Regions from separate parts of the Homo sapiens genome. Here region 2 is linked to region 1. Evidence: fine-mapped expression QTL. A gene starts in region 1. The other region holds a variant in brackets. All regions are shown on one strand. Distances are between the middles of the regions.

What was found. PIP is the estimated chance that this variant, and not a neighbour inherited with it, causes the effect.
Region 2: its variant is fine-mapped to the expression of IQSEC1 in whole blood (INTERVAL, PIP above 0.99).

The regions. Positions count from the first base shown.
Region 1 is chr3:13,065,436-13,081,666 of GRCh38, reverse strand. IQSEC1 (IQ motif and Sec7 domain ArfGEF 1) reads left to right here and starts at 8,238. Exons shown (of 14, transcript NM_001134382.3): 1 at 8,238-8,675. The coding sequence starts at 8,653. RefSeq lists enhancers at 485-984, 985-1,486, 11,666-11,835, 11,846-11,925 and silencers at 7,863-8,042, 8,163-8,322.
Region 2 is chr3:13,012,867-13,021,667 of GRCh38, reverse strand. The region is part of intron 1 of IQSEC1 (IQ motif and Sec7 domain ArfGEF 1); the gene reads left to right. Among named protein-coding and RNA genes, the nearest start is that of IQSEC1, 56 kb to the left of the region's middle. RefSeq lists enhancers at 2,018-2,815, 2,816-3,613, 3,614-4,413, 4,875-4,984, 5,605-5,704 and 6 more. The variant C/T (reference allele first, on the strand shown) is at 3,955.

The sequences.
Region 1 (16,231 bases):
GATTTTTAGATGACTGAAAAATTTTTGTAGTAATATATTTTACTTTTTTATATATTGTTAAGCCTGTTGTAGAAACTTTGAAAAATAAAGAAAATTGAGGCCAGGCATGGTGGCTCATGCCTATAATCCTAACACTTTGGGAGGCCGAGGTGGGAGGATCCATTGGTGCCAGGAGCTTGAGACCAGCCCAGGTGCCAAAGGGAGACCCTATCTCTATAAACGATTTAAAAATTAGCCAGATGTAGTGGCATGTTCCTGAAGTCCCAGAACTTTGGAAGGCCGAGGTGGGAGGATTGCTTGAGCCTAGGAGTTTGAGGCTTCTGTGAGCTGTGATTGTGCCACTGTACTCCAGACTGGGCAACAGAGCAAGATCCTGTCTCTAAAACAAAAGTAAATCAATAAAGTTGAAGGAATAAATAAAGCTGACCAGTTATTCTGCCACCCAGAGATGCCAACTTTTATTGGTGGCATGTCTGTGTGTCCTTCCAGATGTTTTTCTAGTTGTGTGTTATGGACACGCTGTTATATTCATACTGACTATGCACTTATATAAGCTGCTTTTTTTTACGCAGTCATCAAGGTTATTCCCAAACATTGTAAACATCTCTTTTAAAGGCTGTATAATATCCCACTGTATGCAGAAACCTTGCATTTTTAGCCAGCTCCCAATATTGGACATTTACCTTAACATTTGTTTGAGCTTTTAGCTTGTTTATTGTTGTTATAAATAATGCTGTGAAGAACTTCTTTGAGCATAAAGCTTAGCCCTTATTTTGGATTCTTTTTTACTAAGAATGTTGTTCTTGTATTAGCTCAGATCCCCGGGGAGGAGGGCAGGGCCTGAGTCACTGTGGCGGGACAGGACAGACGGCAGATCCCCTGGAACAGCGGCAGGGCGGGGGCTGGGGAGCACAGCCCAGTTCCCAGGCTGAGGCTGAGGCAGGGAGGGAGCGCACTTGCCCAGGGAAGTGGCCGTTGGAGGGTAGGTGGGCAGCTGTGGGTAAGGATGCCTGCTGGGTTTCTTCCCACCCCTGCAGCGGCTTTTGCTGTTCCCTTAAATGTCCATGTCCCCAGGGCTCTGTCTGACCTCTCTTCACCCCTCACACTCTCTCCTCTCTTCTCCTGCAGGGCTGAGCCTCCAGCCAGACGCTCAAAGCCTCCTGGACTCTTCCCCAGGGGTCTCCCTGGCACCTCACAAGGGGGCAGGGGTTATATCTCCCTCCACCCTGCATCTCTGCCTGTGTCCCTGTATAGACAAAGGGTGCCACCATCCACCCAGTCGACGAGCAGGTGGATGCCTTGTCCCCACCCCATCTCTCCTCTCCCACCCACACTTCTCCCAAAACACCTGTTCTCTGCATCCCCACTCTCATGCCTCAGTGCAGGCCTCCACCTCTTCCCTCCAGACTCACCATCCCAACCTCTCCTCTGGTATCCCAGCCTCTAATCTCTCCCCACTAATCCTTCCCCCATGAGGGGATCTATTTAATCACAAACCTCACCATGTCCCTCCTCTACTCAGAAACCTCCTGGAATGCCATTACCCGCATAATGAAGCCCAAACCCCTGGCAGGTTGTCTCATGACTTTCTGCTGCTTTTCACCTCCAAGCCTCTGCACATGTTGTTCCATCTGCAAGCAATACCTTTCCATGCACTGTCTGCCTAACAAGCTTCTGGCCACCCTTCAAGACTCTGTTTCAACATCTTGTCCTCCAGGAAACTTCTGTTTTTCCTTGCTATATCTCTTTTTCTCAAAAACCTTGCCCCTCCTTCCCTCATCTTACATAGTATTATTTGATCTACATTTCCATCGAAACAGTCAGTTCTACCATATTATAACTGTGATCATGTTCGCTCAGTATTGTGACTATTACAAGGTACTTGCATTAGAACGTTTGGTTCTGTGTGACAGTGAGCCCGCTTCAAACTGGCTCATGTAAAATGGACATATGGGCGGCATAACCTCCAGGTTTCAGGTGTGGCTGGCCCAGGGCTCCGGTGATGAGAACCTGCAGCCTCTCATGCAGGCTCCTCCCCATGGGGGCCCCAGTAAAGAAGGGGCCTCTATCTCTCAGGGGTAAGCTCAGGTCCAAGGTGGGATGTTCTCTGTCTCCACGACACTGGCAAACCTCTGGGCCTGCCTCTCACAGCCCTGCTTGAGTCATGCCCTGGTCCTGGCTCCCCCAGAGTCCCAGAGATTAAAGAAGCGGCAACCAGAAGGAGGCAAGTGGCTGGGCAGGAAATTTGCTGGGTGTCCACCACCGCCCAAGGCATGCTGCTCCCTTCCTCCAGGCAGGAAATGGGGCCTTGGCTCACCTTGTTTCCCATGCCTGGCCTGGGTCTGACCCAAAGCAAGCATTGGTCAGCACTTACGGATGCAGGACTGGGCAGATGGAGCGTGAGGTTTAGGAAGGCTCAGGGCCACAGGGATGGGGCCAGGCAGCCAGTGGCCTATGCTTGCCGGTCCCTCCGCCCTACACACAGCCCAACTCCACGTGCACATCTGTGCTGACTCAGCCTCCACAGGCCCGGCCCTGCTCTGCACCTATCCTGTCTGGCACCCCAACATCAGTGCAGGAGTTGCCAGGTTGGGACACCCAGGGCCTTGTGAGGGCCTCAGGAGAGCAGTGCTTCTCTCTAAATCGTACTTCTTTGAATGTTTATTGGTGGAGGAAAGTGACTAGCACGTGGAATGCACAATTTACAATACTGATAGAAAAGATCTGCTTTAGTGAAAATTATTTTAAATTGAGATAAACATATTAGGCCAATATGAACACAGGAAGGGTGAGAAGTAGGGGCAGAAGGGCGGTTGGCACAAGGTACGCCAGGCTTGGAAGAACCCCCTGGGGCAGCTGGGAGAGGGAGGCACCAGCCCTGCCCAGCCCAGACCTCCGGCTCCAGCGCCCCATGAATGTCCCTCCTGTGAACTCTCCAGCTGCCCTGGCTCTAAAACAACTGCAACAGCAAAGCAAACACCAGCAGAGCACGCAGCTGGATGGGCCCTGGTCTGACTGCTCCACTTGTGTGCACTCACGCAGCTCTCACCTGCAGGTGGACATAGATGCCCTGTTAATCCCGGCATCTAGATGAAGGGCTGCAGTGGGGTCCCCTTCCAAAATCCCATAGCTGGTGGCAGAGGAGGCTCCTGGCCTTCCCCCCCAGGCTACACTGCCTGCTGAGAGGTGCAGGGTTTGAGGGGAGAAAGGAGGGGTATGGCAGCCGTTGGGTGCGGGAGGGAGCCCACATCCTGGGGCTCTGTCTCTGCACGCAGGGGCCCAGCATCTCTGATTTAGTGTCTGTGGCTGCTCCATCCTGTCCTGCCATTGGCCACCACTTTTTAATGATGCCTTCTCTCGCTCACATTACACCGCCCTGCATCCTTCAGGGGCCTCTCACAGGCTCCTGAGTAGAGGCTTAGAAGCACAGGGGCTGCTCTAGGTGCCCTCTGCTCATGTGTTCACTGGTTCTCTCCCCAGGGGAGCAGGACTCTTGAGTCCTGCAGCAGCCGAAGCATCTCAAGCAGCATCTGTCTCCCACGCCCCCTTCCTCCAGCCAGCGTGGCCCCGTGCAGCGTGAGCTCCTGCAGGGAGTGTCTGCAGGGCCACAGCTCCCTCACTCATCCGCGGCCCCAGCAGGCTCCATTGGCCACGGCCGTCCTTGGCACAGTCAGCAGCAAACCTGGCAAGGCGGCAAGTGGGGACCGATGCCAGCCCTCGTGGCTTTCAGATCTCCATCAGCCAGGACTCCAAAATAGCATCGAGAAGCAGTGGATGTGCTCCATTTCAGGAGCATATCAAGGACTGCTGCTCAACTGTTATAGGGCCAGGGTCTGATCTTCTCCCCCAAGACAGGGGACAGGGCACCTCAGTGATACTTGGTTTGCTGCAGAGGGAGGTGTTTGCCAGGCTTCCAGAAGCCCACACACATTTCCAGAGATAATTGCTTCCGGCTGCTTCCTCCCTCCGTCAGCCACCTGCACGTGAGGGGTGGGGCTGGGCAGAGATGTTAGGAGGGCCCTGCACGAGCCTGCCAGCGAGGTCCTCCCAGCACCAGAGCCCGAGCCCATGTCTATGATTAGAAAAGCCTGTGATTTGGGAACTCAGCATGGAAGAGTCTGTGGTTTAGAGATTCCATGATTCAGTCTTCCAGACATAATGCCGAGTGGGGAAAGAGTTGCAGAAAAAGATATGCAATGTGATCCTACTTATGTAAAGTTTAAAAACGTGCACAAGTGTTTATATGGTTTGTGGATACCTCTCTATGCAGGAGATTCACTACAGAGTGAATTCACCATGGGGATGGGAGGAGGGCAGGGCTGGCGAGGGGATTTAACAGAGGTGGTGACCCTGGGCTTCCATCATATTCGTCATGTTCTGTTTCTTGTAGTGGGTCAGGGGTATATCAGAGTTCACGGTATTCATCTTTATGCCTTTTGGCACATTTTAAATCTTTTATTAAAAAATTCTTAATATTCTGGGTTTGGTGGTGCATGCCTATAGTCCCAGGCTAAGGCAGGAAGATCGCTGAGCCCAGGAGTTTGAGGCTGTAGTGTGCTATGGTTGCTCCCGTGAAAGCCACTGCACTCCAGCCTGGGCAGCATAGTGAGACCTTGTCTTTAAAAAAAAAAAAAAAGAAAGAAAGAAATTTGTAAAATGATGCCATTTTTTTTAGGGTCTATGTAATACTTCCTATTTTCTATAGGCATATATATGTAGATAAATGCATAGAAAAAGTTCTGGAAGGATCCACTCCAAACAGATGACAGCGGTCACCTCTGCAGAGATTGGAACGGGGAATAAGATTTAGGAGGGTGGGAGGTAAAGGGGGCTTTATTTTGTTTAAAGAGAATACATTTTCTTATCATTTGTGCAGTTAGGATTTCATTTCTTTAAAATGTGAAGCTTCAGCTAAAAGAAAATAAAGTCCCCAGACTTGAAGACTGTGTGGTCCTGAGATTTAGAGTCAGAGTGTTGACGGCTTTGCAGTTCCACAGTTGGAACGGAGCAGCGGGGGTGGGGGGTTCACTTCTGCCCAGCCCTGGATGAAGATCCTGAATCCCTGGGATTCGGGGCTCCCTGCCTTGAAGAGCTCTGTGACTGTCAGATCTGTGGACTGCATGCTCCAACCTTCTCCGTCCTCCCTCTTCCCAAATGCTGTCATGTTCCTCCCACCTTGGGGACAGATGGCCGCAGGTTGCAGGAGTGAGCCGATCTGCAGGAATGTTCCTGCCAGCCTGCAGGGTGGAAATTTTCCCGTTGAGGGAAGGGAGATGGATGTGAGATGTTTCTGGACTTACCCCTTGGCAGCTGCTCTCACCTTCTGATCCAAGCGGCTTCCCACAGTCCACAATGATGAGGCAAGGGCAGGGGTGAACTTGGGCACTTACAGAAACTCCAGGGGATGAAAACGCTGTCTGAATGCTAGGTTCCCACTGTGCCTTAGTCTCCAGCCTGCAGAGGTGGGTGAGTGGGTGGATGATTCTGTGATATAACCAGGGTCACAGGGCAGCAACCCCAAGGCTGGCTGCCCCTGCTTCCCACTCCAGACATCTGGTTACAACTGCGAAAGTGAGGAAAGTGGACAATTCCATCCAGAGTTCTGTAGCTCCACTTCTTATGTGATCAGGACCCTCTCACGACCACAGGCTTTGCATCTGGGAGGTGTGGCTGACAAATCTGCCCTGAGATTGGATGTCGAGGGCTTGGGGTCATGAGGTAGGTGAAGCTCAGCCTGCACAGGTGGGCGCGCCCCTTTTCTGAGACTCTCTGACCTCTCACTGCCTGAAGGGATGAACTTGTGGGTTCCGTAGTCAGAGATCAGAGTCGGAATCCCAGCTCCACGCTTTTTGGAGCCTCCTCTGTGCCTGGTCCGGCGCTGGATATTGAATGTCAGAAATCAAAACCGCGCCAGTGCAGGTGGGTTGTAGGCACTACCCACGTGCCCTGTAAATGATGTTTTGTAAAAGCCTAAAATCTTGGCATTTGTATCTGAATGCCAGGGTCCTTGCCATTTCCTCTGCTTTGAAATAACAGCATAACATGGAAGGAAAAGGAGAGTACGTTTATAAGAAGAAGTGCTGAAGAAGCAACGGATGTGCAGATGCATGTCATGGGCCTCCCAGGGAGCAAAAGAGGAAGCCCAGGAAAGGGACACTGGGTGCTCCACACTCAAGGCATCCAATTCACCACTCTGAGCCTGTTTCCGCCTCTGGAAGATGGAAGTGAGAAGAGAATCGCTAGTTGAGCAAGGCGGCTGAGAGGGGCATTGCTCTAGCCCGAGCCAGGCTGTGAGTTAGTCTGGGCTCTGCTGCTGCCTTGATGGGAGACCCCCGTATGTGGTGCAACCCATCTAAGCAGGAGTGGTAATTATGTTCACTTCGTAGGGCGCTTCTGAGAATTCACTGAGACCATGAAACAACTGGACCTGACACAAAGTGAGCCCTCCTGATGCAGTGGCTGAATTTTGATGTTATTAAAATCTTTTGAAACTCCAGTGAGGAGAGGGGTGGGGTGGGCTCTGCAACATGTTAACCCACAGAAATATGAATTCCTCACATGACTCAGGGAGGGAGGTCCGTGCTACAGGAAGATTGGTCATGCATATGGATTCACCTGGAGAGGGCAGATCGGGAAGCGTCATGCAGTTCTGTTCGATGCCTCACCTTGGCCACCTGAGGCCGCAGCTCCAACCTCTGCTCCCTACCAGGACACTGAGCTGGAAGACTGGGGTCCTAGTCCCACCTCTGCCACTCTTTGCTGTGCAACTTTAGGCAAATCGCTCACCCCCTGAGGTTCATTTCCTCCCCTGTAAAGGATGGAATGGAACTCAAGGATGCAGCATCACTCCTTCTAAATTCGGTGAGTGTGAATCTGGAGAGAATGGAAAGAGGAAGGGAAATGGCCCTGTGGGCTGCCATCCACATCCAGCCGATTCCCAGTCTCAACTACTCCCTCTCTCATTTATTCCTCCCAGTGAGGCAGCTTTCAAGCAGTCAAGAACCAAGACTCTGGAGCCAGACTGCCCGCCAGCTATGTGGCTTGGGCCAGTTGCTGAACCTCTGGCTTTAATGCGCTCCCCCGTGAAGTAGGATGATAGTATTAGGCCTCATTGGGGTTGTCTTGAGGATTACCGTGCACGGAAGAATATTATCTACATGCCTCTGAGATAGGTCTGGGATTCCTGGTTTACAGATGAGGAAGCAGAGAGGATCAGATGAACATCAGACAGGAAGAGAGAAATCTGTGTGGGAAAGGCGGGTGTGGGAGCCGAGGATGGATGTGCGCTTCTCCCCTCCACCTCCCTGTCGCACACTGCACCACGCTGGCCTCCTCTGGGCCAGTCAAATACACCAGGCTGCCTTCCGCCTCAGAGCCTTGACGCCAGCTCCTCCCCTGCTTCTTGCGTCATCCGAGTCTCAGCCACACGTGCCTCACAGAGGGCCTTCCCGACCACCCCGTCTGATGGCAGAAGCCTCCTTCCCGCCTCTCTTGGGGTCCCTGCCTCCCCTCTTCCTGCTCTCTTTTCATCCTGATCCTTATCACCACGTGCAATCCTATATCTGCACACTTACTTCCTGGCTTCCCCTTAGACTGTAAACATCATGAGGGCAGATACTTGCCCGGCACATGGAAGGTCCTCGGGAGAGGAAGAGGCACCATAGCTAGACCAGAAATTCTCCCTAGCCACGTGCAGCCCCCTTTGGGACAGGACTGGCACAAACGAGGACTGCTCTGCCATCCACCGTGCAGCTACTGGCGTGGTGCGCCCTCCTGGAACCCCGTGGTATAGCTGTTATGATCCCTTTCACAGTAGCATAATCAAGACTCCCAGGAGAGACGCGGCTTGCCAAGGTCTCATCGCCCTTCAGTGGCAGAGACAGCCTTGGAGTCGGCCGGCCTCACTCCAGGGCCAGAGCCCCGAGAGCTCCGCGGCTCGCGTGTCTCAGTGCCGAAGGCAGAAAAGCCGCCTTGGAAAGTAGTGTCATCGTAGGCTCCGCGCGGCGCGTGCATTTTAGCAACAGACTTCCAGGTTTCCAGCGCGGGCCAGGAAGGGGCCGGCGCCCCGCGCCCCGCCGGGTGTGTGACTTTGCCGCGAGGGCGCAGCCGAGCGGCCGCGCCTGATGCTGCTGTTGCCATGGCGACCAGCGCCTCGGCGATTGGTCCGGCGCGGCCGCACTACGTTGCTCCTTGGGCGCGGGGGGTGGGGGAGGCTCCGGCGCGCCCGCCCCTTCTCCGGATGCTGCGAGAGCAAACCCGGGGCAGCCTTCTCTCGACCCTCCCCTCCTCATCCCCGCGCCCCGCACCCCGGATGGACGGGAGGGAAAAACCCCAAGGTGGGCCCAGGTAGCAGCGAGGTGGACGCCCCCGCCCAGCCTGGCGACCACGGTTACTCGACGTCCTCGCTCGCTCCTGGGCACGGTGTGAGCGCGCGCTACGTGCCAGGGCCCTCCACAGCCCGCTGCTGGCGCCGCCCCCCGCTCCCGCCCCAGCCTCCCTGGAGGAGCCCGCCACCCCCGGGAATGTGACTCGCCCCGCGATTTAATTTTATTCCCCTCCACTTCTTGCCTGAGCCGCCTGCTCCTCTTGGAAACACGTTGAGCCTCCCCGCTGGAGAGGGAGCCAGAACAGGGAAGAACGGATTCACACAGGATGGCTTGCAGAAGACGCTATTTGTGAGTATATGTGGCAGGTTTCTGCCTGAAGCCAGAGGCCAGAGGGGCCCGGCTGAGCTGGGAGCTGGAGTGAGGGGCATCGTTGGGGGAGGGGCAGGTGGATGTGCAGGTGACTTGCAGAGGGAGCTGGCCACCCAGCAGGGATGCCGGCGCTCGGCCCCTGCAGCGGAGGTGTTTGTTGGTGATGACGATGAGAAAAAGGCTATTAGTCAGCAGGTCTTCAGCAGGCTGTGAAATTCCCAACTGTGAGAGCAGGTATCCCCCCTCCCAGATCCACATTCAGGGTGCCCAGACCGGCTCCTACTGTTTTGGCTTTGGTTTAGCCCATAGCCTGTTTAGGAAGAGAATCTCTGCCCAGCACGCCCATGGCCAGCCCTTCAGCCATGCCTGATAGAAGGTCGCAGGCAGGCTGAGGCAGTGGCCAGGATGCTGCGTCCTCCAAGGGCAGGTGAAGGTCCAGCCCACCGTCCCTAGCACGGAGGCATCAGTGTCCAGCTGTGTGCCCAGGTGTTCTGTGGGCTGGCAGCAGAGCGGCTGTGTGCTGGGCCTCACGCCAGCAGCAGAGGCTGTGAAAGTCTGCACGGGGCGGTGACATCACGGGCCCGGGTATTTATGGAAACCAAAGCCTGCGCTTCGGTTAGCCAGGCTTCCCAGGGGGCAGTGGGGTTCGAATGCCAGCTTCCCTCACAGCTCTCTGGGCGCTGCACTGTGCTGTTCTAGGAGGAGCAACCTTTGCCCTCCTCTGGGACCCTCGGCTGCGGGGGTTGAGGCCCAGCGTCAGGTCTCCACCTGCCTAAACTATTTGCCCAGGACCCACTCATTTGGGGCTGTGCAGTGACCTCAGACCTTAGGAGGTTAGAGAGCATGGCTGAGTCCTCTTGAGCTGGGCTCAGTCGCAAGGCTAGGAAAAGGAGGCCTGGAGCAGTATGTGGGGAGCCTTCTGGGGGCTACCCCAAGGCCTCCCTAATCGATGGAGGCCCCTTACCATGGCAGGGGCCTGTGGAACCCCTGATAGAGTGGCAGCTCCCCGTCACCTCCACTGAGGGAAAGTAAACACACCTCTGCCTCTGCTGCGTCAGCAGTGCCAGGCGGCAACCCACGGGGGATGGCGGTGGCCTCTGGTTCGGGGGATGGCGGTGGCCTCTGGTTTGGGGGATGGCAGTGGCCTCTGGTTTGGGGGATGGCAGTGGCCTCTGGTTCAGGGAATGGCAGTGGCCTCTGGTTCGGGGGATGGCGGCCTCTGGTTTGGGGGATGGCGGTGGCCTCTGGTTCGAGGGATGACGGTGGCCTCTGGTTCGCTGTGATGCTCACTTGCTTTTTTAGTGGAGAAGCTCACAGGTTGGTTTGTCGATGCGAGCAGAGCACACCAAAGTTCTCACTCCCTGTGGCAAGGCCCTCGCTGCATTTTCTGAAACAAATAGTAAATCCTTTCCCAGCGTGGAACTTCCACCCCAGTGGCTGGGAATAGGTCCTCCTGAGACAGCTGTCTCCTCCCTGCCACACCTTTGCCTGGGCCCAGGAGCCTGATGCCAGAGAAATTCTAAACTCTCAGGGCTGTTACATCGGGGAGGGGAGATGTCATGAGGATGAAATGTGACAATTCATATTCAGATTACTTGGCCCAGTGCCTGCTTGCCTCCAATGCTCAGAAATGTCATCCTCACAAAGGCCTTGTCTGGGCAGGCACTAAGAACCCCATTTTAGAGATGGGGAAACTGAGGCTCAGCACAGTTCTACTGGAACCCTGGAGTATACTAGCCTGGGGTGGGGGTTGTAGCCCAGGAGCTATACTGGAATCACTTGAGGAGCAGTTAAAGAAACAAACAAAAAAAAAAAAACAAAAAAAAACTGTGTGGGTCCCACCCCCAGACATTCTGGTTTCTAGGTTTGGGGGAGGGCTCAAGCCTCAGGATCTTTTTCATTTTCCGGATGATTTTAATGTCCAGGTGTGGTTGATGTTCCCGTGATGCAGCTATTCACTGTGGCTGCGTTGCCCAAGCCTATCCAATTGCAGTTTTGCAGGGACAATGTTCTATATGGATTCCAATACTCTTCCCTGGAGAGTCTGCTTCAATCTGTTGGGGGCCCAGCCACCTGCATTTGAACACGTGGCTCTGGTGGATTTGCTGATTCCTGGAATAAGCTCGTCTAGCCTTCCTGCCTAAGAGAGGGGCTGGCCCGAGGGGGCTTAGCGCTCACTGTCTTTCTTTTCTGTGGGTCTTTTCACTCTTCTCCAGCTCTCAGGCTCCCAGTCTGAGCATTGTGACTCCCAGGCCATCCCCGCTCTGCCACCAAACCTATTGGCACCAGAAATACCAAAGATACTTGGAGGGGGTGGCTCTGTTTGTACGCAAGGATCTTGTAACCAAGAGCAGGCCTTTCCTGAGGTTACCCTGCTGCACTTGATAAGCCTGTGTTTGCCCACCATTACTCCCCACCCAGAACCCGCGGCAGGCCCACTTCTAGGCCCAGGCTCTCCCAGCACCTGCTGCTCAGACCTTATTGTTACCCTGCCTTTCAGTGTGGAAAGGAGATGGGGTGTTGAGCATCTCTAGATGTTTAACTTTCCCAACAGTTGCACTGTAGCCACTATCAGAGCTGCCCAACTTGATTGCAAAGCGTTCTCATGCTTAGTTGCCTCATGGGGTCTCACCAACTGCTGTAAAATGTGATACTGTCGATCCCGTTTTACAGAAGAGGAAACTGAGGCTCAGAGAGGGGAAGGAACTTGACTGGGGTCACACAGCTGTTTCCTGCCGTACATTTGGCAGTGGTGTCCCTTCCCCAGCATGCCACATGTCAAATCGGGACAGACTTGCTCCAGCGGCCCTGTGCATGGCACAGCCAGGCTATCCTCAGCCTAGTGGAGCCCTGCCGGCGGGCCCCCACCCCCACCCCACTGTCCTCACTCCCTAGCCTCCATTTTCGCCACTTCCACTCTCTGGGCCCCTGGTGTGCACCCAAGGGAGCTTTATGGAATCGAGACTCTGTCCCGGTCAGGGCTCAGTCCATCGTGAAGGTGGCACACTGGATGGGATAAAGGATGACAACAAAAGCAGGAGAAGATTTCTTAACCCAATGGGGGAACATCAGGAGGCTTCCAAGAATCAGACCCTGAATCAAACTTGCTAACACCTGAGGTCATTGCTGTACTGGCAGCTTCATGAATGGTGTCTGAATGAAGGATGGCCCTCAATTCTGTAACTACAGCATCCTTTTCATCATCTCTGCAAGGGGCCCCTCTGTCCTCATGGGCATGTCACATCCTGTCACTTGAACACAGGAAGTGAGGCTGTGAGGAGTTTGTGGTGTGTGAGATGTGGGCTGCTTGGCCAGGCCAGTGGAGCACTCGCCTACCCATGCCTGTTCAATCATTCATTCACTGCCTGGAACTGTCCCGACCCCTCTCTTCCTTCTGTTTGGGGGACATGATGACCTGCCGGCCCCCGCAGGAGGCAGTGGTCTCCCTCTGGTGGGATGCCCTGACCTGCTGCTTGCAGTGGGGCCTTCATGAAGGAAGCGAAGCCCTGGTGGGTCTCCCCTAGACAGAAGAAGGGACACTGGTGGGACTGGGCCTGGAACATTCCACACACACACACACCTCCAAGAAACTTGTGCATTGAGCCTTCACCATTATCACCTTGGCTGGGTCAGTTCTGCAGGCACAGTTATCAGCATCTGCTGGACAGTGGGCCTGGGCTGGATGCCAGGGAAGAGCAGCCCCAGCCCACCGAGAGAGATGCAGGGAGGGAACCGGAGGCCCAGTCTTCACTCAAGCACGTGTGATGACCGGTAGCCTTTCTTGCCATGCAGTGATCACTATTAAAAATGGTTATTATGAATGACCCACACAGCACTGGGCTATTTTCCAAGAATGCTGTAGCATCTATCCACCCTTTACAGCCCCAGGAAGCCACTGGGCAGGTCCTGGTTATAACTCAGAAAGACTGGGATATGCAGCCAAGGCCGCATAACCAGGCCTGGGCCTTCACTTCCCTGCCTTCAGCTAGTGTTCATGGTGCACCTGCTGTATGTCCAGCTCAGTGCTGGGAACCACTGAGAGGGTGCTGCTCTCAGGGGATACTGCAGGGGAGAAGGACACAGAGAAATGAAGAAGATAGAGAGCCCAATGGGAATGGATTGAGTGAACTGTGTGGCCACTCAGGAAGTGAGGAGGGCTTCCTGGAGGAGGTGACCTTTGAACAGAAATCTAAATGATTAGGAGGAACTATCCAGGAGAAGAGTGGGGGCCCCGGGTGCAGGGGACAGCAAGTGCAGAGGCCCTGGTGAGGGCATGCTTGACAGGATTGGGCCACAGAGGGAGGATGGTGTTGCTGGAGCAGAGTGGACCAAGAAGAGAGGTAAAGGGGCTGGGGCTGTTCATGGAGGCCCTGGAGTAAAGAGTCACATCGTCATGCTGGAAGCTAAAGATATGAAGAAAAGACTGGGGGTTAAAGAGGTTGGGGAACTGCATTGGGGCCTCCCAACCATGAGGGGGTGTCATGAGCCTGGGGCCTGAAAATTCAGAGGCCTGGCCACTGCCTCTGCCCCTTTGCAAGGCCAGGGCCCAGGCCTGCTCCCCGTTGTATACCCAAAGCTGGCATGGCCTGGCATGATGTTGGGACTTAGAGACCCTGTCTGGGGTGAATTTTAGAGACTGAGAGGAACAGACTTTTCTGGTAGTTGCTGGACAGGCAGGGCAACAAGTAGCGTCTGCTTAGGCAAGCACCTACCTCTGACCCACCTGCCACCATCTTCCACCAAAGGATCCGTGAAGGACAGGTCCGACATCCACATCCTCCCTGGGCCTCAGAGGAAGCGTAAGGCCTGGATTGGCCCCAGCCCCGGGGCAGGACCCTGCTGGGCCTTGGTCAGCCCATGGTCAGCATCTTTTCCCAAGTGCCCCAAGCACAGGCACTGGGCCTAAGCCTCCTGCTCTATGTGGTGGGGCTGATACTCCCCTTCCAGGGTTTGCCTGCGGGCCAGCAAGCAGGCTGGGCCCCAAGCTCAACAAGTGTCACGCCATCCTTGTCCCTCCCTGGAGGCCCTTTGTTGAAGCCCCCCAAGGCCCCCTGTGCCCCTAAAGGACCTGGCACCATCTCCTCAGGGCCCTGGCCTGCCTCCTTGCACTGACTCACTTGGTCTTTAAGAATAACAACAAAAGTGCCTTATCTTGTTGAATCCCACAACTCTGGCAGGGTGGTTGTGTGCCATCCTGTTTTCCAGGGAAGTGCCTTGCTCAGGGTCACAGCCAGTGAGTCTGCCTGACTCCAGACCCTGCTCCTCCCCAGCCAGATCTGTGTGCCCTTGTGGGTGGGGCCAGTGGGCACCCAGTGCACAGAGATGGGATGAGGAAGGGAAGGAGGGTGGTCAGGGGGCCCAGGTGTTGGGGGACCTGACGCCTTACCCTGAGCAGGTTCCAGATCTCTTGGCCGCAAGGCTCTGTCCCTCCCCACCCCTTCCCCACTGCATGCACTACCTGGAATGTGTTGGTCACTGCCACTGTGGCATGGCTGCCCCCAGCCTGCTTGTCCTGGGTGCTGAGGGTACTTGTCCCACAGTGGCTGGGAGCCCCCCACCCAATGCCTGTGGACCAGACCAGTTTTGTCACCACCAGTGGGGGCTTAGGAGGCGTTGCTCCTGGGTGCTGGCTAAGCTGCTCCCAGGCTTACCTTAGAGCCTGCTGCTTTCCCCCAAAAGCCTACTGACGACACAGCCCCCGTCTGCCCTTCCCGCTCTTTCCAGCCTGTTGGATGGCTCCTGTTCTCTCAAATCTCACTCTTACCCCCAGGAGGCTCCCTGCAGGCAGAGTGGATGAAAATATCCTGCCCCTTGGTCTCTGAGGCCCTGGCCCACCTGGGGCCTTACAGAGCAGGACAAGGAGGCTCCACTCCAGCTCTGTCCCTGCCTCACTATGTGACCCTGGGCAGGCTGCTTGCCCTCTCTGGGCCTCTGACCTCATCTGGAAAGTTCCTGGTTATGCTGCGACACACAGGGGACTGGGAGTGGGAGGAGTGGTGTCTGCCAGGCACAGCAGCTCCAGGCATGCTGGCTCATTCACATGGCCCCATCCTGCCGATCACTCACCCATTCATTCACTCAGCCCACCATGGTCACTGGACATCTAGTCCACGTCCTGACACACGCCAGGCCTGTGGGCTACGCCTGTAAATGGACCAGGCCCGCCCTGCCTGCATGGAGCTACCGCCCAGAGAAGGGACACAGTAAATAAGACCTGGTGGCACCTGCCAGAGCGGCTCCTGGATACAGCTGGGAAGAGAACGGGGTGGGGCAGTGGGCGCCCCTTCCTGCACACACCCCTCTCTCCTCAGCCGCTCTGGGGCCTGAGGCCCTCTCTCCTGGTCCTCCTGGCCTCCCACGATCCCACAACGTTCCAACTCCTGCCCAGCCCTGCCTGGAAGGCTCACCCTGCCACACTCTTGCCCATGCTGGCTCCTCTGCCGGGAGTGCCCTTCTTCCCCTTCACCTCAGACCTCACAGCCCAGCCTGTGCCTCTTTCCTGACTCCCCCAGGCAAATGGGCCCCCTCATAGAGCTCCCGCATGGCGCGTGGCGAGTCCTCGCTGTGACAGACACAGTGCCGGCCCCTCTGTTGTCACCAGCTGCCCGGAAGTCCTGCCTTTGCTTTCTAGCATCCCTGAGGGGCCTGGCCTGACAAGGTACAAATCACCATTTTTAAAATTGTGGTAAGATAGACAGAAAACTTCCTTTTTTAAAGCTGAACACTGTTGCGTTGTGCAGATCGACCACATGTTTGCCTTTTTTAATTACACACATTTCAGCGGCAGTAAGTGCATTCACAGTGCCGTGCAGCCAACACAGCATCCATCTCCAGAACTTCACTTTCCCAAACAGGGCTCTGTGCTCTGTAAGCGCAGACTCCCATCTTGCATCCCCAGCCCCTGGCACCCACCATTCTGCTCTCTGTCCCTGTGAATATGACTGCCCTGGGGATGTCATGTGAGTGGAATCAGACAGCATTTGTCCTTTCCTGACTGGCTTACTTCACTTAGCCTCATGTCCTCAAGGTTCATCCCTGCTGCGGCAATGGGCAGAACTTCCTTTTTAAAGCTGAACACTGTTCCATTGTGCGGATGGACCACATTTTGTTTGTCCATTCACCCATTGATGGACACTGGGTTGTTTCTGCCTTTTGGCTGTTGTGAATAGTGCTGCTGTGAACATGGGTGTGCAAATACCTCTCCGAGTCCCTGGTTCCATTTCTGTTGGGTGTATACTCAGAAGTGGGATTGCTGGGTCAGATTGTGATTGGATGCTGACTGTTTTGAAGAGCCGCCATACTGTTTTCCACAGCAGCTGCACTGCTTTACCTTCCCTCCACCACTGCACAAAGGTCCTGGTTTCTCCACATCTTCGCCATCACTCATTACTTTCTGTTTTTCTTTAATAATAGCCATCCTAATGGTGTGAAGTGGTATCTTGTGTTTTTAAATTTCCCCCTCTTGAATAAAAGTGTGAGTGATGAAGTTTAGCTTACAAAAGGGATGGTTACGTCTTTGTTGTTTTTCAAATATA
Region 2 (8,801 bases), 56 kb after region 1:
GCGCTTGGTGTAGTGATTCCTTCGTGTGACCGTAAACGTCAGTCACTGAGTGGCTGAGGGCTCAGCCCGGACTCAGACACCAGGCTGCCCAGGTTTAATGCTGGCTTTGGCATTGTTAGTGGTGTGAAGCGGCTTCACCTCTAGCCAAAGTTTCCCATCTGCAGATCCTTTTAGGATTGTTTTGAGGATTCAGTGAGGTAATACACACTAAGATCAGGGCCCGGTGCGGTGCCAGCATTCAGTCAGTGTTGGATACGATGACCCTTGCCGTTGAGCTTTCTCCCCAGCTGGACAGCTGTGGGGGGTGGTGGGGGTATCTGGAATGGCGCCTGCATGGTGAGAATGAAAGGGTGGAGCAGAGCTCCTTGGCCCCCTGGGGAGGGGACACCATCTGTGATCGCTGCGGCCTCTGCAGCTGCCAGAAGGAGGGAGACCAGGGCGCAGGAAGCCAGGTCCCTTGTGATCTCAGGCAAGGCTGGGGTCTCCCCATCTGTAAAGGGGAACTACACGGGGCCCGAATTTGTATATGGAAGGGCTTAGGGGCAGCCACCTATTTGGAAGATGTGTTTGTACTTGGATGCCGCCTAAGGGCATATTATTTTATTTAAAGGGGTGGATTTGCAACAGGTAAGGGATTGAAAGATTGTCCCTCTTTCTTTCTGCCCTCACTCTCTGGTGTATAAACTTTATAAGCATTCCTTCCTTCCTTCCTTTTTGCCTTCCTTCTATTTCTCCTTCTTTCCTTGTTTCTTTCCTTTCTTCCTTCCTTCCCAAAATACTTGTGACAGCTTACAGAAAATACCTGCAACAAAATAGTTAATAAAAAACATCAGAAGCCAGGCATGGTGGTGCATGTCTCTAGTCCCAGCTACTCGGAAGGCTGAGGCAGGAGGAATGCTTGAGCCCAGTTCAAGGGTAGTGTGTGATGATCATGCCTGTGAATAGCCACTGCACTCCAGCCTGAGCAACACAGTAAGACCTCATCTCTAAAAAAAAGAATCAGGAGTGGAAAAAGCACAATTTAGAATAGGATGTCATGAGCTAGGGTAGAAAAATAGAACAGAACAGAGATATACAGGGTCCTGAGGTTCTTCTGTTGGGGTAAAAATTGCCAAGTTTCCTGGCAGCCAAAGGGAAAGGGGAAACCCAGCCACACAGTTTACTCTCACTGTAATAAGAAACCATAATTACAGTGGCCATAGTTGTCTCTGCTGCTGGGTGAGAGTGCCTGGGGCCCTGGGCCTCAGCCTCAATGGCGGGTCTTGGGCCTGGGCAGGTTTGAGGGAGCAGGGCAGACAGTGAGGGCTAAAGTGTTCTCTTGGGATGAGGATGCCGGCTGGCTGTGGGAAAGGAGAGAGGCAGAGCTCAGCCCTGGAGTGAGTCAGCGGCTGCCTGCCCCTGCCCCTGCCCCTGCCCCAGACCCCGGGATAGACCTCCTGGGTGGGTGACTTGGGAGCTGGGCCAGGCAGCGGGTGAGTCCTGGACTTTGGTGAGCTCTCCGTGTGCTTTTCCTTGTGACCACAGCTGGATTTTCCTGAGTCCCCTTCTGTCCCAAGGTTTCCAGGTATTGGCACTTTGGAAACCTCAGGGCTTGTTGACAGAATGCAGAGGGCTCGGCACTGGGAGGCCCGCTGTGCCCTGTCCAAGGGTGATTCGCTCGCTCCCTCTTGGCTGCCGTTTGCCCACATGGTCTGTAGGAGAAGCAGCACCGCCTCACAGAGCCTGGCAGACTGGCCTCTCTGTGCCTCAGTCTCCTCATTGAATGGCACGGCCACCTGACGGGGCTGTGGGGCGGGGCCTTACGGGAGGCTTTGTGGCTGTCAAGTGGTGATAGACAGGTAGCTTCACAGGGGTGTCACGAGCACTGGCGGGTGGCCTCCTCACCACCAATGAGAGGAGAGTGGTGGGGTGGGTGTGGGCACCATAATTGGCACTGGGTTTGTCCCAAACCCACTCTTAGCACCCATAACTGCCAGGCGCCCCTGTGGTTAACTGGGGAGGATGGGCCTTGGGCTCCAAGAGAAGCACTCTGCCCTCCCGACCCCTACCCCATTCTGTTGAGAGCCCCTGAAAGGACTAAGGCCACGCCCCAACCAGCCAGCCAGCCAGGAGCAGGCCCTCTGCGGATCCCAGCCCCCTCGGCTGCCAGGGAAGCCCTGAGTCAGCAGGTCTGTGGCCCAAGGCGGAGCTGCCGGCGGCCACAGGGACAGATTGGAGGGTTGCGATCGGACAGCGCATAGTTTTCCACTTGCGTCTTCAGATTCCCCTCCGAGTGAGCCTGTTGCCCCTGGCTGGGTCCCATTCACATCTGGAAAAGCGAGAGGTGTGTGTGGAGCAGCTGTGCGCCTGCCAGCCCTGGCCCTCTGCCCAGGGGTTTGGCGACCGCAGTCAAGGAGCCGGGAGAAGGGTCTCTGGAACTTTGGCCCGAGGACTCTGAGAGGGACGATCCTGGCTGCAGGCTGTATCCTGGACAGAACAGCTTGGGAGCTGGGCACCCCAGGGTTTAGAGCCCACAACGGTAGGTTGTGAGATGTGCAGCCCTCGGGCAAGTTGCTAAACCTCTCTGGGCTTGTTTCCTCGCCTGTAGAGTTGGGGGGGAGCCATGCCAGCTGGGCGGGCTTCTTGGCAGGTCATCACTGGGTTCTGTTGGCTTGGCATCCAGCAGGGTGCATGGCTGTGGCACCCCCTCCTTGTCCTCTGAGTCTCAGCGTGGGGGCTTAGGGGGATAACGTGATGAAGTGGGAAGCACACAGGCTCAGAAATCAGGCTGACCTGAGTTCAAAACTGGGCTCAGCCCCTTCCTACCGTGGACGTGACTCTTAGAGACGTTCTGAAGCTTCCATGAGACAATGCCTGTAAGCTTCCCCCAGCTGCAGTAGGTGCTGCTGAGGCATTGGCTGTTTGTATAACAGGCAGCCTCCCTGAGCCCCTGTTTCCCCGCCTGTGAGATGCGTGTGGGGATACAGTAGTTCTGGAGGGTGGATGAGACCCTTTAACCAGCTCCCCGCCCCTCCCCTCCCTGCGTCTTCCCTGGCTGGCCTTTCTCTGGGCACTCACCTCTGGGCCCCTGGCAGACAAAGGCCTTGCTCTGGGTACAGGGCAGTGCCCTGATAAATCCACAGCCCCTCTCAGGTCAGGCAGGAAGATCACTTTTGCATCTGGCATTATATTGAAAAAGAAAGATCGTTTTGTGCCTTGAGAGCCAATGGGGCGTTTGAGCCTCTTCGTGGGCCAGGGCAGCTCACTTGGAACACATGGGGCCCAGGGTGCTGGTTGATAAGGAGTGGGGTGGCCTTGGCTGCCCTGGCCCTGCCCCCCTCTGCCTTCCCACCGTGGCTGCATCTGGGCAGGAGGGCCGTGAACAGCTCAGCTGGCAGCCAGCCTTTGAGAGCTTCCAGGGAGCTTCCTGGACAATTAGCCATCTGATGCCCCTCTGCAGGAGGGCCAGTGGGCGTTCCTCTTGGGACAGAGTGCTCACCACCTCCCAGCCTGGGCCATGCCTAGGCAGCTCTGACGCGAGGACATTTGTTCCCACTTGGAACTGGCACCATCCTTCCTGCGGTGCTCGCTGCCACCCACCCACACACTGAAGTGGCCTGGCCCTGTCCTCTGAGCCTCACAACCCATCTGCTCCCCAGCTCTGGACAGCCTGCAGAGACCAGGACTCCCTGAGGCTGAGGAAGGGGTCACCAGCCTCCTCCCCACCCACGCCTTCTGGACACACCCTGGCTCGTGCTGTCTATCTCCGGGAAGAGCCCAGAGCTGAGTTTGGGATGGGCAGGAGGTCCTGGGCAGAGCAGAGCAGAGCCGCCACTTCTCTGGCTCTGGGCACTGCCTGGAGCACACATAAATTCCCTTATGGCTGCTTTCCCCTTTCACCCGTGGGCCTCACCATTGCCTCAGCCCTGCCAGCCTCACCTCCCTCTCCTCGGTTCCCATCTCTGCTAGTGACTG[C/T]CGCCCCCTCTCCCTGCATCGAGTCTTCGTTCAGGGGATGAAGACCTACTCTGTGCCTGACACTGTGCCAGGTGCTAACTATCCATTCCCACATCCAGCCAGCTAGCGCCCACCCTGTGAGGAGCACTGTCCCACAGCACAGAGGAGGACCTGAGTCCAAGGCTTTGCGTTACTGGTTTCCTCACCGGAGTTGTGGGTGAGGCTCTTCTTGGCAAGCACCACAGGGCAGCACTTGTCGCCGAGAGCTCAGAGCCCAGCAGCAAGGCGGCATGGGCATGAGCCACTCTGACACATGGGAAGAGGCTTTCTTCCGCTGATCAGCAAGTAGTTTGCTGAGCACCTATTGTTTGCTGCCCCGGGCTAGACCCTGGGGATACAGCAGTGAGTGAGGTGGACACTCAGGCCTCCTGGAGCAGATAGATGTTCAGGTGAGAGAGAAATGATAAAGAGAAAATAAACAAATGAAGATGCCTTCAGGCAAAGATCGGTGCCAAGAAAATAAAACAGGGAGGGATGACAGAGTGATCGGGGAGAGGGAGCCACATGGCCTGGGGAGGTCAAGAAGGGCCTCTCCCAGTGGCCGTCAGTGGATGAATAGATAAACACAATGTGGTCTGTCCATAGTGTGGAATATTATTCAGCCACAAAAAGAAATGAAGTTCTGGCACGTGTTACAGCACAGGTGAACCTTGAGGACATCATGCTAAGTGAAAGAAGCCAGACGGAAGACCACAGAGCGTATGGTCCCGTTTCTAGGAAATGTCCAGAACAGGCAAATCTATAGAGACGGGAGGTAGGTTTGCCGTGATCCAGGGCTGGGGAGGGGTTCTTTTTGAGTGATGAAAATATGCTAAACATAGATAGTGGTGACAGTTGCACCCCTCTGGGAATATACTATTAATAAAATCATTGAACTATACATTTTAAATGGGTGAGTTGTATGGTGTGTGAATTATATCTTAATAAGACTGTTTGAAAAGAAAACAAAGACTCGTCTGCAGTGGTGGCCTTGCGTTGAGAGTGACAGGGTGGAGTGAGTTTGTGAGGACCTTGGGGAAGAGCAGGCAGAGAGAGCAGCTGGTGTAAGGACCCTGAGGTCTGTGTGCACCTGCAGGAGGAGCACAGAGGAGGAGGCTGGCAGGAGTCGAGAGGGCGGGAGGAGCAGTCCCCGTGGTGGCAGGGCCAGATCCTGGAGAGGGCTTGAAAGTTGACTGGGGCGGGAGAGCCACGGCTGGGTAACATTGCTGTGCTTTCTGTTTTAAAACCGTCACCCGGGCTGCTGTGAGGAAATGAGACTGTGGAGAGGGAGTGGTGGGGCGTTGGGGGCAGGGAAGGCCGGTTGAGATGTGGCGGCCGGCCACTGTTTAGATGAGAGATGACAATTGAGACCCAAAGAAGGAGACAGACAGACTGGCTGGCGGTTGCAGTGGGAATTCAGACAGGGACAGAGCACTCCTGGCGGAGAGGAGGCTTCCTGGAGGAGGGGCCTGGGCCCGGACACTGGCAATGTCAGGATGGGCTGGTGGCGGCTCTCCAGATGGCACCCCTGTGGGGGATGTGGGGGGCCCTGCCTGGCCATGGGGAGACGAGACTGGCCACCCTACCCTGGCACCACCCCTGGGTCCCCTTTGGGCCCAAGCTGCTAAGTAAGTAGGGCACCCTCTCTCCAGGGACCCCTGTCACACTACTTTATGCTGCTGGCTCCAGCTGGCCCTCCGTGACAGTGCAGTGCCCATGTGGCCAGAGACCCAGAAGGGGCCCGGCACTCTGAACAAAGCAGTCTGCCTGGAACTTAAGTGGCCCTGAAACACGATCAGGCACCAGAGACTGTCCAGGGAGGTGGGTGTATTATTTATTGACTGGGGCCTGCCCAGTGAAGCCATTTGGGTTTGCCAGACCTGGAAGGAGCCCCCTCAGCAGTGCCTGGGGGCCTTTTGGAGGGCAGGTGGGCGGGGGCCCCAGGGTGCCTGGCACCCTCTCCCCTGGGTGTGGTTTCCTGGATGCCGACTGAGCAGGGAGGAAGTCAGACGTCAGGACCTGCTGTGGGGATGGACCCACAGCTCATCCCCCGGGGCCGCAGAGGCAGGCCAGGCACTGGGGTTCCAGGGACACCTCCGCCCCCTCCACTTTGAGACTGTGAGTACCACCCACCTGGCCCGGGGAGGGGACCTCAGCAGCCCTGAGAAACCTGTGAGGGGCTGGCGACTGTCAGGGCAGCCTGCCGTGGTGAGGGTCTTGGGGGCTGTCGTCAGAGTTTTCACTGTTTCTCAGAGCTGTATTCTGTGACCCGTTTCTCACTGCCTGGAATGCACACAGGCTCGCCCTGGGCCCAGGAACACCAGGTGTTTCCCCACAGCCGCAAGGGGAAGTTCTTTAGCTCCCCTGCGCGTTAGACCAGCCCCAGGCCCCATTAGGGTTGAGAACCAGGGCCCCGCAGCCCACCTGGATGGCAGGGAGTGTTGGGTCGCTGCCTACGGCCCTCACAACCACCCTGAGAAAGATGGACTCTTGACAATGCCCAGTTTACAGCCGAGTAAACTGAGGCCCTCAGAAGTCACACAGAAGTCAGAAGTCCTCAGAGGCCCTCAGAAGTCACACAGTGGCCCAGGGCTCCTGGAGCATATTTGGTGTGTTTCCTTCCCACACTGCTGCCCCCCTCAACCCTATGGTGCATAAACTTTGAGCAAATGGAGGTTTATGGCTGAGGGAACACAAGGCTTCCCCAGGCTGTGTTGAGGAGACACTGCCTTGCAGAAGTCTTCCCTGCCCCAGGCTCGCTGGGGCCATTTCCCATCTGGCAGTAGCCCAGTATGTGTCCCCCCAGGAGCCCCTTGACCCACTGACAAGTTCAGTATCTTTCTGAAATGATCCAGAGTGGAACCTTGAGGATCTGTAGATCCCTGGGGCTGGGAGCGTGTTGGGGGATGTTCCCTGGGTTCTGAGCTGTAACCCCTGAGCCTGACCTCTTGGGGTCCTTGGGCCAACAGCCCCTGGCTCACTGGGGTCATCAGGGAGTTCAACAGATGGGTCAGAGGAAGCTTTTACCGACCCAGCCTCAGGGAGCAGCCTGGGAGCTCTCACTCCCAGCCAAGCCTCCCCCACCCCAGCCCTGGCTCTTGGGGGCAGGCAAGACAGATAGCCCTTTCCTTAGGACTGGAGCCCAACCAGTGGCAGATGGAAAAAGTGAGGCCCAGTGATAAGGAAGCAATGGGCACCTTCACCCCTGCCCCCACGCTGCAGACAGAAGGCTGCTCAGTGCCCTGAGGGGTCAGTCACTCTGTCTCAAATCCCAGCTCCCCAGTGTGCCCCAGCCATGTGACATGGGACAGATGTCCCAACATCTCTGGGCCTGGGTTTCCATATAACCCATAGCGAAAGTCCTCCCTTCCGGGGTTGTTGTGAGGCTTAGATGGTGAAGCAGGCCTCTGTGGGGAATCTCCCTGTGGGCGTAGGTGACTCTGGGTTCCCATCTCACTGAGAGATTTACCAGGGCACAGTGCCCCTCAGGCTGGTTAGGGGAGGCTTGATGACCCCAGTGAGCCAGGGGCTGTTGGCCCAAGGACCCCAAGAGGTCAGGTTCAGGGGTTACAGCTCAGAGCCCAGGGCTCTGGCCTCCAGCTCAGCTACCTCCAGCAGCAACCTGCCTTTGTTGGGCGCCAGGGCTCAAGCTGGGGAGCCTGGCCAGGTGGCTGCCCACACCTGTGTTCAAGGCCCATTTCGGTCCAGCCCAGCAGAGGCACAGAGCAGATCAGAGCCCCTGCTGCCTGCCTGGGGACTTCAGGGGAGCCCATCCTGAGGCCTCATGTCCTCACCTGTGAAATGGCCAGGTGTAACCAGGAGCCTTTAAGCACTCCATGACTCTGTGCAGAGTTTCATGCACATCATTCATTTGTTAATTCAGTCATTCAACAAACATTTATTGGGCACCTACTGTGTGCCAAGTACTGTCTTGTCTCTGAGAGTACAAAGGTGATAAATCAGATAAACCATCCCTTCCCTTCTTGGTGTTGGGGAGTCAAGCAATATATGACTAACGCAATGCATGCATGATAGGTCATGGGGATGACATGTTCTGTGAAGGAGAGTAGGGCAGAGGAAGGAGATGGGCGCAAGGAGGGGTAAGCGGTTGGTTGTATTTTATTTTAATGGACACATGTCACCTATTAGAAAACACCTGTAGGCCATCAGGCAGCTGAGGGCAGGTTGGAGGGTCCACACTGTGGCCTTCATTCCCTGAGTCCCTTGTGGGCTAGGCCAGTGTGAGCTGTCCTCTGACCTGCATGCAAGGGTGAGCTCATTAGCCCCATCTGATGGACTTGCAAACCAATGCCCAAAAATCCCAACCAGTGTAACTCCAGTGGCTTCTGGGAAAGAGGTGAGGGGACTCCGCCGGCAGAGTGGGTATCTGGACTGTACTCAGCGTGTGGGAGCATTGAAGTGGCTATCAGCCGGGCCTGGGGTGTGGTCAGGCTGTGGTTAAGAGCCCAGACCTTGGGAGGCCAAGGCGGGCGGATCACTTGAGGTCAGGAGATCGAGACCAGCCTGACCAATATGGTGAAACCCCATCTCTACTAAAAATACAAAAATTAGCCGGGCGTGGTGGCGCATGCCGGTAATCCCAGCTACTTGGGAGGCTGAGGCAGGAGAATCGCTTGAACCTGGGAGGCAGAGGTTGCAGTGAGCCTAGGTCGTGCCACTGCACTCCAGCCTTGGACACAGAGCAAGACTGTCTCAAAAAAAAAAAAAAAAGCCCAGACTTTCATGGGAGTTTCTGTTCCACTGCTTTCGTAGCTATGTGACCTTGGGTGTGTTGGGTCCCATCTCTGAGCTTCACTTGGTCAGTGAGG